Regions from separate parts of the Homo sapiens genome. Here region 2 is linked to region 1. The links come from fine-mapping of genetic effects on plasma protein levels. Region 1 holds a variant in brackets. A gene starts in the other region. All regions are shown on their reverse strands.

Evidence for each region. A credible set is the group of variants that fine-mapping cannot tell apart. PIP is the posterior inclusion probability: the model's chance that the variant is causal. The UK Biobank Pharma Proteomics Project read protein levels with antibody pairs (Olink). The fine-mapping took linkage between variants from a reference panel, not from the people measured, so its PIPs are less certain.
Region 2: LAMP3 starts here. The variant in region 1 is the best candidate, but not a certain one, in a credible set for the plasma level of the LAMP3 protein (UK Biobank, PIP 0.61).

Annotation. Positions count from the first base shown.
Region 1 is chr19:1,148,923-1,157,244 of GRCh38, reverse strand. SBNO2 (strawberry notch homolog 2) reads left to right here. Exons shown (of 32, transcript NM_014963.3): 2 at 2,843-3,061; 3 at 7,803-7,876. The coding sequence starts at 2,969. Among named protein-coding and RNA genes, the nearest start is that of SBNO2, 21 kb to the left of the region's middle. The variant T/C (reference allele first, on the strand shown) is at 4,588.
Region 2 is chr3:183,158,582-183,166,903 of GRCh38, reverse strand. LAMP3 (lysosomal associated membrane protein 3) reads left to right here and starts at 4,170. Exons shown (of 6, transcript NM_014398.4): 1 at 4,170-4,297. The coding sequence starts at 4,249. RefSeq lists a silencer at 3,960-4,169 and enhancers at 4,782-4,991, 6,904-7,403, 8,104-8,322.

The DNA.
Region 1 (8,322 bases):
GATGCCCCAGAGACATGGCGTGGTCACAGCTGCTGCAAGAAACGGCGGCGGAGTCAATGGGGGAAGGGTCCGGAGGGCTCAGGACCATGGGGTGGGAGCCAGCCCTTGGGGGCGTGGGCCCTCGGACAGGACCGAGTCTGCAGGCAGGGCTAGGGGCTGGGGGCTGCGGGAGGGCCTGGGGATCGGGGCAGCAGGGGTTGTGAGATATGGCCGAGGACAGGGTGGGAGGCGATGGGGGGCTGGCAGTGGGCGGAAAGGCAGGGCTGTGGGTCCTGAGGGATTGCAGAGGGTGGGCGTTCTCAGGAGTGGCGGGTCCTGGGGGATTGCAGAGGGTGGGCGTTCTCAGGAGTGGGCACAGCCTGAAGTGTTGGGTTGTGGGGGGACTTGGAAATGGGCCCCGGGTGCAGGGTCGCCCCAGCCCGGCACCCACGCATCCCCTTCTGTCTCTGGATGGGCCCGTCCTGGACAGTGCATAGTAGTGGGATCACACACATCTGTGCCTGGCGTCTCTCACAGAGCGTGACGTCCTCAAGGTGCGTCTGCGCTGTGGCCTAGGTCGGCCTCGCTGCTGTTCATGGCTGTGTCGTGTTCTGGCACGTGGATGGGCCACGCCACATGCTGGTCCACTCGCCTATCCGTGGACACTGGGCTGCTTCCTCGGGTGGCTGTTGTGAGTGGTGCTGCTGTGGACGTGCATGGCCACGTTTCTGTGTGGTGTGGAATTGCTCGGTGGTGTGGTGACTCCAGCGTTAGCCTCTTGAGGAATCCCAGACTGCCAAGCAGCCGTGTGTGAGGATCCGCCTCCGCCTCCGCCTCCTGGTTTTGGGCCCTGACTCTTGGTTGGTTGTGCCTGGTGTCCGCATTGTTCTCCTGCCCCCATCCCCTCCCGGTCCAGGTCTCCACACCCTGCCAGGTCCCCAAGGCATGGACTCCAGGTCACATGCCATGTGTGAAGCCCTCCCCTTGAAGAACCCGGTCCCCTGAGCCTCCTGGGGTTGCCGCCTGGAAGGGGCGTCCACAGACGTGGGGGGCTCAGAGACCGTAGGGAGGGAGGAGCTGCCAGGAGCACCGTGCTGGCCTAGGGGACTCGGACACAGGCGAGCTCAGGGCCCCTGCTGCTGGAGGGGTCCCTCAGCTATGGTGTACCCCGAGGACGGTCATGGGGTCGCCCCAGAGCTGCCCAAGGTGCCCCCTCCCCAAGCTCCGTCCACCGTGGGGCCTGGGCCCTGCTGCCCATCAGCTCAGGACTGTGTGGCCTCAGAGCTGAGGAGCGCCCTGAGTGTGGAAAAGGTCAGCGTAGCTCTGGGGCTGTGGCTGCCGTGAGATGGAACCTGCAGCAGGAAGGGGTGCTGACAGGAGCTGAGGGGAGTCCCTGCAGGGGAGGGGCTGCTGAGCCCCAAGGCAGGGGGTGGGCCACCCCCTAGCACTGGTGGGCCCCTGGATGGGGACCCCGGTATCAGCAGCTGCCTTGGGCCCAGCAGAGCTGTTTGTGGCCACCAGCACACGGGGCCGGGGTCGGGGGGTCCCAGGCTCTACCCAGAGAACCTGTCTCCCAGAGGAACATACCGAGGCTTGGAGGAGCTTGGGTGTCTGAGGTTATTCAACTCAGAAGGTGGAGCCAGGCTTTGATCCTGCCTGACCCAGAATCTTTGACAAGGATTGGCCAAGACCCCAGATCCCAGCGGGCCTGTCCCTTCCCCTAAAGGGCCGTTCTGGCAAGGGTGTCGCAGGTCCCCGTGGGCAGCTGGAAGGGCTGCCAAGGGTCCCAGCTCTGGTGGCAGTGGGTTGTAGCGTCCTGACTGCAGGGAGCAGGCAGAGGCCGCGGACAGTTGGGACGGCCTGGCAGGGTGACCCCCACTGTGCCTGACCACCTCCATCTGGTCTCTGGGACAGGAGTCCCGACCCCCAGCCCCTGTTGCCCGGCCACTGTCTCTGGAGCGCCGGGCAGAGACGTGCCTCTCCCCCACGGGATTGCACAAGTGCCTGCGTGTGGCTGGACGGCAATTACTGGAAGTCCCGGAGATTTCTTCACTCCAGGGCTTGGCCGGGAGTGGCCGCCGCCTCCCCTTCCTGCCGCCCTCGGCAGTGAGCATGCTGGGCGGACGCCTGGAAAGCTTTCCCTGCCACCACGGGCCAGCCTGGGTCCCTGCACTCGCCAGGTAGGGCCTGGTGGGGGCTCAGCCTGGCGGGCGTCTGGCCGTGTGCCAGAGGCCGCGGGGCACGTGGGAGCTGTCCCTGGCGTCTGATGGTGTGGGGCTCGGCTCTGTAGCCCAGGAACGTTCTCAGTGGGGATGCTGGTGTGTGATTAGCCTGAAACGAGGTCTGGGTGCTCTTCCAGCTCTGCGTGGCCCCTGACCCCCCTCCTTGGGAGACCTCACTGTGGAGCCCCTGCTGCCTCTGAGGGACAGGGCTGGGTCCAGTGTCCCCTGGGCTCCCCTGGGTGCCGGGCCCGGGTTGGACTCTCCCTCCACAGTCTCACACCGGCTGCTGACAAAGCCAGATGTGGGGGAGTCAGCCTGCAGCTCCACTGCTCACAGTCTGGGTGCCTGGTCCTACGGCTGCCCTGTGACCTGGGCAGCCCTGTCGGGCCCACCTTAATCGTTGTAGTTGGGGCCGGGGAGGCCAGGAAAGGCGCTGTGGGCAGCACAAAGGAGTTGGGTGGCACTGCTGATGGCGGGTGGGGGTGAGTGGGGAGGGGAAGGAGCGCCTTTTGGTTCCGGCCCAGGAGGTAGCAGGAGCTGCAGCCCAGGCTGGGACCGGTCATGCCCGAGGGAGAGGCGGCCGGGGAGCACCACTCTCCACCACCGTTGGACTCTCAGGACGTCCCCGTCTCCCTCTGCAGATCATGATGCTGCCGCCACCGCCGCCACCACGGAGCGAGAAGCCCAGATAGACGCCCCGGCGGCCCCGGGTCCTGGAGTCCCGCCGCCTGCTGCCCGGCCGAGGACCCCACCCCGCCTGCCGCCCGATGCTTGCAGTGGGGCCCGCCATGGACAGGGATTACCCGCAGCATGAACCCCCGCCGGCGGGCAGCCTCCTGTACAGCCCGCCGCCCCTGCAGGTGAGCCCCACCCCCGGCCCCGGCCCACCCGACGGGGTCCACGGGCACTTGCCCCGCTCCGAGTGCCCGGGGTCACGTCGTGCGGAATGCTGCCCCAGTGGACGCGGCGTGATCTCCACCTGACCTTCCTGGCCCGGAGCCCGGCTCCACCCGCCCCCGTGGGCCCTGGAGAAGGGTCCCCATGGGGATGTGAATGGGAGGCTACTCATGGCCCCAGCTTTTCAAGAAGCACATTTGAGGAGATTCTCCCTGCTGCAGAGCTTCCAGTTCCTTCGCCGTCAGCTGTAGGGGGGGCTCAACTTTACTTGTAGGAACCTGTCAGTGAGGGAATTACTTAAAAAATATGTTTCTGGCCAAGTGGCTCGTGCTTGTAATCCCAGCACTTTGGGAGGTGGAGGTGGGCAGATCACCTGAGGTCCCGAGTTCAAGACCAGCCTGGCCAACATAGTGAAACCTCGCTTCTGCTAAAGATACCAAACTTAGCCAGGCGTGGTGGCGGACGCCTGTAATCCCAGCTACTCGGGAGGCTGAGGCAGGAGAATTGCTTAAATCTAGGAGGCAGAGGCTGCAGTGAGTGGAGACGGCGCCACTGAACTCTAGCCTGGGCGACAAGAGTGAGACTCCATCTCAAAAAAATGAAAAATAGGCCTGGCACGGTGGCTCACGCCTGTAATCCTAGCACTTTCAGAGGCCAAGGCGGGCAGATCACTTGAGGTCAGGAGTTTGAGACCAGCCTGGCCAACATGGTGAAACCCTGTCTCTACTAAAAATACAAAAAATTAGCCTGGCGTGGTGGCAGGTGTCTGTAATCCCAGCTACTTGGGAGGCTGAGGCAGGAGAATCGCTTGAACCTGGGAGGCAGAGGCTGCAGTGAGCAGAGATTGCACCACTGCACTCCAGCCTGGGTGACAGAGCGAAACTGTGGCTCAAAAAGAAAAAAAAAAATTTTTAAATTAAAAATATATAAACGTGTATATATATATTTATTTTTATTTTATTTCATTTTATTTTATTTTGTTTTGTTATTTTTAAAACACGGTTTCACTCTGTTGCCCAGGCTGGAAGTGCAGTGGTGCGATCTCGGCTCACTGCAGCCTCTGCCTCCTGGGCTAGTGATTCTCCTGCCTCAGCCTCCTGAGTAGCTGGGACCACAGGTACGCGCCACCATGCCCGGCAGATTTTTAAAATTTTCTCGTAGAGATGAGGTTTTGCCCCGTTGGACACGCTGGTCTCAAACTCCCGGGCTCAGTTGACCCGCCTGCCTTGACCTCCCAAAGTGCTGGGATTACAGGCGTGAGCCACCGCGCCCGGCCCTGCCTGGGGATTTACCTGGAGACAGAGGGGCTGCCCTCTCCTATCAAGCAGCAGGACCTGCTCCAGGACTCCAGGGTCTCCTGGGTACTCCCTAGCCCAACACCCAGGTTGGCCTGTGGGGCGAACATCACAGACACCCCTCGGCAGTCCATCCTCAGAGGGCTTTGGGCAGCTTCCTGCCATGTTCTGACCGTCCAGAGGGGGCTCTGAGC[T/C]GGGGCCAGGGTACCCCTCTCGTAGCAGGGTCCCTGTTGCGGCCCAGACCCCTCCTGTCCCCCTCCCTAGTTCCTGAGTCCCTTGGGGTTGAGGCTGGATCCTCACAGCTGCCCCGGTGGAGCTCGAGTACCGGCCGTCGGTCAGCCTCCTGGGCCACCATAAAGGGGACTGGCCAAGCCACATCCCCACCGGAACAGCTCCATCCCCCGAAACCCGCCAGGAGCTTGTTCCGATCCAAGAATTCTATCTCGGAAACACACCCTGGGGACTAATCCAGGAGGGAGGGGAAGACAGAGCGGCACTATTTATAGTGGCAGGAAACTGGAATCTCCCCAGAGGCTCTACGGTGGGGAAATAATTAAGCGAATTATGGGATGTGGAGACAGAGGAGCCATCTTCAAGGATCCGAGCGGGAGCAGGAAGGTGTTAGCAGTGACAGTCGGGGAATGCGACAGGGCTGGAACCCGGCGGGGGCACTGGACACCAGCCACAGGGCTCAGGCCGGGGCGCACCCGTGCGCGTAACCGGCTTTGCTCCCCATCCCGTGTGTGAGGCTCATCCCACCCTCCCTGTTCCGGGTTCCGTCACATTCGGGTACGTCATGGACACCTCTGGGCAGGGTCGACTGAGTTCGCACACGCACAGCCCAGCCTCTTCCAGTGCCCAGAGTATTCAATTAGAAATAAAAATACACCGGCCAGCACAATGGTTCACGCCTGAAATCCCAGCACTCTGGGAGGCCGAGGTGGGCACATTGCTTGGGGTCAGGAGTTCGAGACCGGCCTGGCCAACATGATGAAATCCCATCTCTACTAAAAATACAAAAGTTAGCTGGGCGTGGTGGCGGGCGCCTGTAATCCCAGCTACGCATGAGGCTGAGACAGGAGAATCGCTTGAACTCGGGAGGTGGAGGTTGCAGTGAGCCACGATCGTGCCACTGCACTTCAGCCTGGGTGACAGAGTGAGACTCCGTCTCAAAATAAGGAAAGGAAAGAAAATCACCAGGCAGGCTCTGATTGTCTGGGCAGGGTCAGGTGCCCATCTCTGGACCAATTATGTGCTAGGACCTGCCATCTAAAGGTGAAGCCACACCCTCTGGCTGCCAGAGAAGGTCCCAGGGAAGACTCTGATTGGCCTGCCATGCCCATGGCACCCCTGTGGGGTGGGACTCGGGTGTGTGTGGATGGCAGGTCTCAGAGGAGCCATGGGCTGTGGGAGGGAGGAGACTAGGGGGATAGAGGCAGTCAGGACTTTCCCCCCGTCCCATCCCCTAGCCTGGCCTGGGTACAGGTGGAGCATGTTGGGTGAGCCAGGGACCCCTGGATCCTCCCGCCCTGCGACCCCAAGCCCCCCGCCCCCTTCCTGCAGCTGCAGTTCCCTGGCCGTGGCCCTGCCCAGCCTGGCCCAAGGCGCCGTGTGTGCCTGAGACGGACTCCAGCTCATCTGAGGAGGCTGGGTTGGTCTGGAGTCAGAGTTCTGTTCCAGAATGTTCCGGATGTGCCACATGGCCTTGGGAAGTTCCTGTTTCTCTCCAGGGCTGGCTTTCTCTCTTCCCAAAAGGGCAGGAGGAGGGGAAGGATCAGGAGACCCGGGCTCTGGAGCCCCTGTGGCTGGTGGCCCGGCTTCCTGCAAGCCACTTGCACGGGGTCTTCTCACGGGTGCAGGAGCTCAGGGTGCCCAGGCTGCCGGCCTCTGTGCAGGGGAGGAGCTGTGGGCTTTTGCTGATAAACTTATTTTATGCAAAAGCTGGAGGAGCGGGGCAGCGGTCACCCCGAGGGCTTTGCCTATCTCGAGGCTGTCGGGGGTCCTGGAATCCCCCACCCAGCACCTGCGGGTACAGAAAGTGGCCCCCGGCCATCCGGGCTGGTTCCCAGCCAGTGTGAGGTGAATGAGGGGCAGAGGTGGCCGAGCCCCAGGGAATTGCATCAGGGCCTCATAGAGGAGCAGGGCTCACGTGGGCCTGGGAGAGGTCACTGGGGGACTCAGGGAAGCAGGCGAACCCCCAACCCTGTTCTGGAAGCCAGCGTGGCCCCCAGTCCTGCTGGGATAAGCAGGATGATGCCCCCGGCTGGTGGTGTCTCCCCCATGACCACGGGGGCGTCCGTGACGGCAGGGTCTCCCCCGTGACCGTGGGGGCGTCCGTGACGGCAGGGTCTCCCCCGTGACCGTGGGGGCATCCGTGACGGCAGGGTCTCCCCCGTGACTGTGGGGGCGTCTGTGACGGCAGGGTCTCTCTGCTGCAGGTGAGGTTGGCCCTGTGCAGGTGGGGGCCCTGCTGAGGGGTGCCCATTCTGCAGGGCACGAGGTGTCCACAGCCCTGCCCCCGAAGCCGCAGGTGCTGACCCTGGGCCCGCTGCCGCCCTTGGGCCCGCTGCTGCCCCGTGTGCTCCCCATCCTCAGGTTTTGGGGCCTGCCGTGTGCCTCAAGCCGCTCTCATTCCCAAGGGCAGGCATAGTGAGGTTTTCCCAGAGAACCATGGGGTGGGGACATCGGCTCCTGGCGAGGGTGTTGGGTAAGCCTGGCCTGGAGTCAGACCCACCAGAGATTCGGCCAACCTGGAGCCACTCACGCCTCCACTGACCTCGGGCTGAGCCTCCAGGCCACTGGTCACCATTTCCCAAAGCAGGCTCCCCGCACCCCAGCCCCGTGCAGCTTCTGAGAAGTCAGGGCCCCGTCCCGCAGCAGCCTGAGCTTCCCGGGCACATCAGCTTGTCCGAGGGGCCTGGAGGTGGTGTGAGGCCCTCGCCTGCCCCAGGCCCTGCCCGAGGAGCCCCCGACACCCACCCTCCACCACAGGCAGCGGGTGCGCGTCTCCCTCACGCAAACGGTCCGATCCTCCACCTCCTAGAATGGGGCCTCCAAGCAGGGTCCCGGGGCCAGCGGCACCCCCAGGTCTTGTGTGAGATGCAGACTCCCGGGCTGCGGGCCTGCACATGGGGCTGCTGGTAGAGCAAGACCTGTGCTGAGCCCTTCACGCGGGTGGTTCAGTGCCTTCAGACCACACCACAAGCCTTGGGTGGGGTCTTGTGCAGGTGGGGAAACTGAGGCACGGGGCAGTTAAATGACTCCCCAGGAGATACCAGCAGGGGCGGGATGGGACCCTGACTGCGGGGCCTCCCTAGCCTCTCGGCCTGTCACCCTGCCCGGAGGGCTTAGCCGGGCTGCACCGCAGGTCCTCTGCTTCCCACTCACTGATGCCCGCTGTCTCTTCTAGAGCGCCATGCTGCACTGCCCCTACTGGAACACCTTCTCGCTGCCGCCATACCCTGCCTTCTCCAGCGACAGCCGGTGAGTACCGGGACCCTCCCCGCCTGGCCCCCAGGCTTGCTCATTCTGAAGTCACAGTTACAAACGGAGTTCTGGGTGCAGGGCGCGAGGGCCCAAAGTCTTGTTGAGGGGTTTGGAGGGTGGTGTGCACGTGGTCCTGGAAGGCTCCACCCCACGGGCCAGGTCCAGGCTGAGACCCCTGTTTGTGGAACGCTGTTTTGTGATCCATGGCTTCCCTCTCCTCGAGAGCCCAGCTTGGTAGAGGGCGGGGAGGTGTGGGCTATGGGCCAGGGGGGCCTCCTGTGGAGGTGACACCAGGATGGGAAGGGGCGGGAGGTTTTCTGGGGTGAAGGAGGGTGGGAAGGGGCGGGAGGTTTTCTGGGGTGAAGGAGGGTGGGAAGGGGCGGGAGGTTTTCTGGGGTGAAGGAGGGTGGGAAGGGGCGGGAGGTTTTCTGGGGTGAAGGAGG
Region 2 (8,322 bases), not on the chromosome of region 1:
AAATAATGCTATTTTAAATAACCATGAGTCGAGGAGATAGCAAAAGGAAATTAGGAAGTCTTTCTAATTATATGAAAATGAAAACATATTAAACTTGTGGGATCCAACTAAAGTAGTAATTAGAGGGACGTTCATAACAGTAAACCTGTTTATTAGAGATGAAGAAAGATTTTATACCACTGGCCTCAACTTCCATCTTTTTTTTTTTCTTTTTTTTTTTTTGAGACAGAGTCTAGCTCCTGTCACCCAGGCTGGAGTGCAGTGGCGTGATCTCAGCTCACTGTAACCTCCACCTCCCGGGTTCAAGCGATTCTCCTGCCTCAGCCTCCCGAGTAGCTGGGATCACAGGTGCCCACCACCACACCCAGCTAATTTTTGTATTTTTAGTAGAGACGGAGTTTCACCATGTTGGCCAGGCTGGTCTTGAACTCCTGACCTCAGGTGATCCTCCCACCTCAGCCTCCTAAAGTGCTGGGATATCCCAGGCAAGTTCCATCTTTGAAAACTATTGAAAGAGGAGCAAATAAAACACAAGTTAAGTAGAAGAAAGAAAATAATAAAGATCAGGTAGAAATGAATAAAACAGAAAACATAAGAACAATGAAGGAACTCGATGAAATGAAATTTTTTTTTTTTTCTTGAAAACATGAATAGAATTGATCAACCTCCAGCCAAACTTATCAGGGAAAAAAGAGAGAAAATACAAATTATTAATATTAGCAGGGAAATAAGAGAGAAAATACAAATTATTAATATTAGTAATAAAAGAAGTGACATCACTACCTATACTACAGATATTGTAAGACAAGGGATTGTTATGAAAAGCTTTATGCTAATAAATCCAACAACTTAGTTGAAATAAAAACCTTTTTTTTTCCTCTTCTTTTCTTTTTTTTAGACACAGGGTCTGGCTTTGTCACCCAGGCTAGAGTGCAGTCGCTTGATCGCAGCTCACTACAGTCTTGACCTCTCAGGCTCAAGCAATCCTCCTGCTTCAGCCTCCCAAGTAGCTGGGACTACAGGCATGTGCCACCATGCCCAGCTAATTTAAAAAATTTTTAATAGTGGCAGGGTCTCCCTGTGTTGCCCAGGCTGGACTTGAACTTCTGGCCTCAAGTGACCCTCCCACCTTGGCCTCCCAAAGTGCTTGGATTATAGGCATGAACCACTGTACCAGCCAGAAAACGTTTTTTGAAAATAATAAACTATGATACTGCGATATAATAATATATCTTTGGTCTCTGTCCCAGTTTCTAAGACAGAGCTCCTAAAATCCTTATATGCCAGAGTTCTAGGAGAATCTTTTGTTTTAATACTTGGTCTTTGACCCTGGTTCCTGAAACAGAGCTCCTAAATCCCTTGGAATTTCCAGGGTAAGAGGAGCAGCTTTATTTTATTTATTTTTTTTTTTTTGAGACGGAGTCTCCTTCTGTCGCCCGGGCTGGAGTGCAGTGGCGCGATCTCCGCTCACTGCAAGCTCCACCTCCTGGGTTCACACCATTCTCCTGCCTCAGCCTCCCGAGTAGCTGGGACTACATGCACCTGCCACCACGCCTGGCTAATTTTTTTATATTTTTAATAGAACTGGGTTTCACTGTGTTAGCCAGGATGGTCTCCATCTCCTGACCTCGTGATCCGCCCGCCTCGGCCTCCTAAAGTGCTGGGATTACAGGCGTGAGCCACTGCGCCCGGCTATGTGCTTAAAATCCTAGACTCTCAAGGCAGACAAGATTTATGGTCAGGTTTCGGTATTTATTATCTAAGTGACTCTGGGCAACTCCCTTCTTTGTGCTTAGTTTCTCCATCTGCGAAATGGGGCAGCGATAATAACAACAGTGTCCATATAGAGTGGCTATGGCGCTTAAATGGAATAAGAAGAGTGCCTGGCACACAGTCTATACCCACTTAATTATCGTCTTTTGAATAAACTGTCTCAAAGATCAGAAAGCAGGTAGTTGCTGAAACTAGGTTGACTGGCACAAGTTAACCCTCACTTTTCACCATAAAAATTCCATTCTGAAACACACTGCAAGCTTTGGTTAAGTTTACTTGATTAGTGTTTGGAGCAACATAGTAAGACAAAATAGTTGTAGCCAAAGTTATTTTTCAGAAAATAATTTGAGGCTAGGCTGAAAGCCCTCAATCTAGTGATAAGGAGGGTCTCCTAATATACTGCTTAAATGTGTATTCCCCACTGGGACTCAAGCCCTGTCAAAACATCGTTGTTTTGACAGACAATCCAATTAATAGAGGAAGGAGATAAGACATTAAAAGGTTGCCTGTCAGCGTTGTTGAGCCGTGGGCCGTGGCTTACGCCTGTAATCCCAATGGTTGGCTAACGCAGGAGGATCATTTGAGGCCAGGAACTCGAGACCAGCCTGGGCAACACAGCGAGACCTCCTCTCTACATAAAATAAAATAAAATAGCTGGGCGTGGTGGCACGCGCCTTTGGTCCCAGCTACTCAGGAGGCTAAGGTGGGAGACTCACTTGAGGCCAGGAGGTCGAAGTTGCAGTGAGCCGAGATCACGCCACTGCACTCCAGCCTGGGTGATAGAGCGAGACCCTGACTCCAAAAAAAAAAAAAAAACGATATTGTGTGTTTTTTGTTCCAGGATTTTCTGGTCTGTAAAACCACCTGGGGCCAGGCACAGTGGCTCACGCTTGTAATCCCAGATCTTTGGAAGGCCGAGGCGGGCGGATCACCTGGGGTCAGGAGTTTGAGACCAGCTTGGCCAACACGGTGAAACCTGGTCTCTACTAAAAATACAAAAAATTAGCCGGACGTGGTGGCGCACATCTGTAATCCCAGCTACTGTGGAGGCTGAGGCAGGAGAATCGCCTGAACCCAAGTTTGCAGTGAGCCGAGATCACGCCATTGCCCTCCAGCCTGGGCGACAGAGTGAGACCCTGTCTCAAAAACAAAAACAAAAACAAACAAACAAAAACAAAGAAAGAAAAAGAAAAAAGAAAATAAAAAAACACACTGGGAGTGGGCATTATTATGTCCGTTTTACAGCTGAAGAATCCAAGGCTCCTAGAGGTTCCCCGACGCCGCACGCCGGGGAGTCGGCAGCGCGAGCTCCCAGCCAGACCTAGCGCCTCTGGGCTGTGCTCCTGTTGCTTCCCGCAAACCGCGGTCCTGGCGAGGCCTGGGCGTGGAGCGCGGCTGCCGCAGACTCCCTGGGAAGACATGGAGTCAGGGTGCTTAGGGGTTTTTAGGCTCCTGCTCGCCTAGTGGCTGGCTTTCTCCCGGCTGAGAAGCGTCTCTGGGTTCCCAGAAAGGTACCCGAGCTGTTAGAAAAGAGGAGACCCTGGGCCGGGCGCAGTGGCTCACGCCTGTAATCCCAACACTTTGGGAGGCCGAGGCGGGCGGATCACAAGGTCAGGAGATCGAGACCAGCCTGGCCAACAGGGTGAAACCCCGTCTCTACTAAAATACAAAAATTAGCTGGGCGTGGTGGCGGGCGCCTGTAACCCCAGCTACTCGGGAGGCTGCGGCAGGAGAATCGCTTGAACCAGGGCAGTGAGCCGAGATCCCGCCACTGCACTCCAGCCTGGCGACAGAGCGAGACTTTGTCTCAAAAAACAAAACAAAACAAAACAAAACAAAAGAAATAAAAAGAAAAGAAATAAAAGAGGAGACCCTGGCCGGGCTCGGTGGCTCACGTCTATAATCCCAGCACTTTGGGAGGTCGAGGCGGGCGAATCACGAGGTCAGGAGCTCGAGACCAGCCTGGCCAATATGGTGACACCCCGTCTCTACTAAAAATACAAAAATTAGCCGGGTGTGGTGGTGCATGCCTGTAATCCCAGCTACTCGGGAGGCTGAGGCAGAAGAATCGCTTGAACCCGGGAGGCAGAGGTTGTAGTGAGCCGAGATCGCGCCACTGCACTCCACCCTGGGCGACAGAGCGAGACTTCGTCTCAAAAAGAAAAGAAAAAGAAAGGAGGAGACCCAGGGTATGAGCGGAGGAGGCCGGCGCTGCCGGGACCACGCGCGTGCGGTAAACGGTCCCAGAGGCCCGGGCCCCGGCGGCTGCGCCGAGTCCCCGCCCCTCCCTGCTCCGTAGGGGTAGGAGGGGGCCGGCGGAGTTTCCCTCCCCGCCCAGCGGCCCTGGGCGGGCTTTTCGGCTGCTTCTCATAAGCAGGTGGTTTCGTTTCTCCGGCACAGGTAGGTTTCTCTGGCACCGATTCGGGGCCTGCCCGGACTTCGCCGCACGCTGCAGAACCTCGCCCAGCGCCCACCATGCCCCGGCAGCTCAGCGCGGCGGCCGCGCTCTTCGCGTCCCTGGCCGGTGAGTGGCCCTCAGCGCTTCCCGCGGTGGCCCTGACGTGTCGGTCCCCTTTCATCTAAACGCACTCTGGAGTCCCGGGCGCCACAGGACGGGCTGCGGGTAGGGAGGTGTGGCGCGTCCAAGGGCTTCCCAGCTGGAACTTGTTTTCCGTGAGTTACTCAGAGCAGGTGTCAACCCCAAAGACAGTGACACTGTCCCTCGCTTCCAAAAGGGTTCTGGACACCTTCTCAGGGAGAGTTTGTAGAGGTCACTCGGATTTAAGAGATGGAGACCTGAGCTAGGGTTTAGGAATGGGAGTCTTGGCTTTGTTATCCGGGAAAAGCGCTCCTGTCTTGCTTTTCCTTGCATCAGATGTGGTCTGACAGATTGTGCCATTTCAGAAAGGTGTAGGAAGAGTGTCAAAGACTTTTTTTTTTTTAAATGATCATTGTACTTCCCATCCCAGATGCCGTCTGGGACGCTGAGTTTATGATTATTTTATGATCCGACCCTCCGCTTTCTCCAGAGCTTTTCCCCCTAGACATTGAGTCCTCGGGTGCTGTGGTGTTGTCCCTGTGATGAAGTTTCCTGGTTACTCGAACGTCATGAGAGAACTGTCTCCGTCCCTACCGCCCGGCTAACATGCTCAAGCAGGGGGCGCGGTGGCCCTTGCTTGTAACATGAATGCTAGGAATGTTAGGGAAGAGGTGAGAAGGGTCGTGCCAGCTGCCCTTGCCTAGGCAGTTCTCCCCTGCGCCACACTTTCACACTTACAGTTTCAGGTTCTTTTAGGGGACAGAAGAGGAAGTCATCATCACGCTCCACAGGGCAAGCTATTAAAAAAGCAAAACAATCTCAGCCTAGCGGTAACCCACAGTGACCTGTATGTGAGCGCTCCTTGAATGGATGGATAGGCTCAGAAACACAATGGTATTGACAGGCCAGGCGTGGTGGCTCACACCTGCAATCCCAGCACTTTGGGAGGCTGAGGCCGGCGGATCACTTGAGGTCAGGAGTTCGAGACTAGCCTGGCCACCGGTGAAACCCCGCCTCTACTAAAAATACAGAAATTAGCCGGGCATGGTTGTGGGCGCCTGTAATCCCAGGTACTCGGGAGACTGAGGCAGGAGAATCACTTGAACCCAAGAGGCGGAGGTTGCAGTAAGCCAAGATCATGCCACTGCACTCCAACCTAGGTAACAGTGAGACTCTGTCTCAAAAAAAATAAATAAATAAAAATAAAAATACAGTGAGTATTGACAAATGCAAGGGCAAGTGGAGAGAAAATGCCCACATTACCGGTTCCTTTCTGAGCTACAAATTCTCAGAGGTGAGCTAGGTGAAGGATGCATCAGAGGTTTCTTCCTCAGAGGTGGAGGCCTTTGAGGGGTGGCACGGAACTGGATTCAAACCCTTGCCCTGACCCTTCCCAGCAGGGAGGCCTTGTTCACATCACCCAACCTTTCGGGTGCTCAGTTCCCTCACTGAAAAATGGGGAGAATAATATCCTCTGCTAGGAGTACTGGGGAAACAAATGAGGTAGCACCTGGACAGCAATTACTGCAGTGATTTTGCTCAGTGATGTTAACTCGTATCTCCTGTTTGTCCCTCCAGTCCCTCTCCCATTCACCTCACAACCTGACCTTGAGCCCCTTCTTCACTCAGTACAGGGCTCATCAGCACATGGTAATTAACAATGATGGACATGGCTTCCTGGCACTCTCTGCATGCCAGGCACTGTTCGCAGTGCTTTAATCCACAAAACAGCTTTGTAAGTACTGCTATTGTCTCCGTTTTACTTGCGAGGAAATAGAAGCACAAAGAGGTTAAATAACTTGCCCCTGATCACATAGCTAGCTGGTGACAGAGTCGAGCTTTGAACCAGAGTCTGTGCCCATAGCAGCTAACCTATGTGCTTTACTCATACATCTACTTACCTATAACTTATTTAGTCTCATAAGAACCCTGAAAAGTAGGTGCTATTCTTATCCCTATTTTACAGATGGCGGTACTGAGGCAGAGGCAGGTTAAGGAATTGTTCATGGTCTCCCAGTTAGTGAGTAGCATTCCTGAGACTGGCATTCAAGACATCTGGCCTTGGCTGGGCACAGTGACTCACACCTGTAATCCCAGCACTTTGGGATCCTGAGGTGGAAGGTCGCTTGAGGCCAGGAGTTTGAGACCAGCCTGGACAACATAGTGGACTGTGTCTCAAACAAAACAAAACAAAAACGAAGTCTGGCCTTGGGGTTCAGGCTCTACGCTACTGTGCTACATGATCCTGCATGCATAGGCTCAAGAAATCCTTGTTGAATTGGAAATGAGCAAAAATCATCAGAAAGTTTTGCTAGGAGAGACGGAGCTTTTGGGTAAACTCTCTGAGTAATCTTTACCCAGTCAACTTGCTTCCCTGATCTCAAATTTTTCCTCCAGAAAATGAGGGGATTTAAGTTCACGTCAGTTAAGTTTAGGTTCAGTTACACGTAAGACACAAGCCAAAATAACAGTAGATTAAACAAGATAGTTGCTTGTTACTCTTTCATGTGAAAACATGTCCAGAGAAATTCAGGTCAGTTCTAGTGTGGGAGTGCTTCACTGGAGATCCGTCATTAGGATCCGACATATAGGTATGTGACTTCTACCCTCAAGGCCTCCTCACGGTTCCACATGTTGGCTGGAGCTCCAGCCATCACATACAAGTTGCAGGTTGGTCAAAGGAGGAAAAACAGAAGGGCTGTAGAAAGGCAGTCCACACAGGTGATTGAGCTGCCTTCACCCAGCCTTCCCAGAAGGCCCACATGATCTTAACACTTCCCTTCTTTTGCTAAAACTCAGTCATATGCTCCCACCCAGCTAGAAAGGAGGTTTAGACATAGAACTCTTTATTCCAGGCAACAAGTGCTCAGCTGAAACTTGAGGTACTGTTAGAAAGAAGGGGAGACTGGGTTTTGGAATAGTCAGCCAGCAGTCTGTCACAGGGATAGTGGCCCTTCTGCTCTAGGATTTCCTTGACTCTCTCTGCTGCACCCTGCTGGGGCTGCTTCTGCTGCCCCTAGAGGTGCCAGAAAACATGCTGGGGGCTAAACTGTGATTCCCTGAACCTGGACATGGCCGTGGGGCTCCAATGACTCCCTGACTGTGCTCCTCAGAGCTCTGCAGACAGTGTGTAGTCTCCAAGGCCTGCCAGGCCTGCTCCCTGCTGGTCTCCCCTCCTCACCCCTCCCTTCCCATACCGTCCCTGTGTTCCCGTCATGCTGACCCCTTGCTGTTCTCCAGACATACAAGACTTCTGAAGCCTCTGCGCCCTTACACATTCTCTTCCTCCTGTCTGGAAACCATCTCCTCCTTTGTCTGCCTGAAGAATTTATCCTTGTGTTGGATTCCCACCCTACCCACACTCTCATAGTATCTGGGGATTTGATAAAGACACTTGTCAGTCGGGCACAGTGGCCAATGCCTGTAATCCCAGCACTTTGGGAGTCTGAGGTAGGCAGATCACTTAATCCTAGGAGTTTGAAACCAGACTGGGCAACATGGTGAGACTGTACAAAAAATGCAAAAATTAGCTTGACATGGTGGCACATGCCTGTAGTCGCAGCTACTGGAAAGGCTGAGGTGGGAGGATCGCTTGAACCCAGGAAGCTGAGGCTACAGTGAGCCCTGAGCATGCCACTGCACTCCATCCTGGGTGACAGAGTGAGACCCTGTCTCAAGGAGAAAAAAAAAACAAAAACAAAGACAAAAAAAAACACTTGTCACACTGAGAAGTGTGGTTTACTCATGTGTCTGCCTCACAGGGCCCCTGAGAACAAAGACCTACCCCCAGTGCCTGGTACAGAGCCTGCCTGAGAGGAGACCCGTACATACTGTTGAGTGGTGTGGCAGGGAAACCAACCAAAGGCTGTCTGGGAAGGGACTGGCTGTCAGGAAAATACCTAGAAACAATCCCTTGTGAGATCACTGACTTTCTCAGGGGACTGGGCAATGACTCATCTCACACCCACTGGTTGTAGGGGAACCAAAACCTTCTAACGCCTCTTCATGCA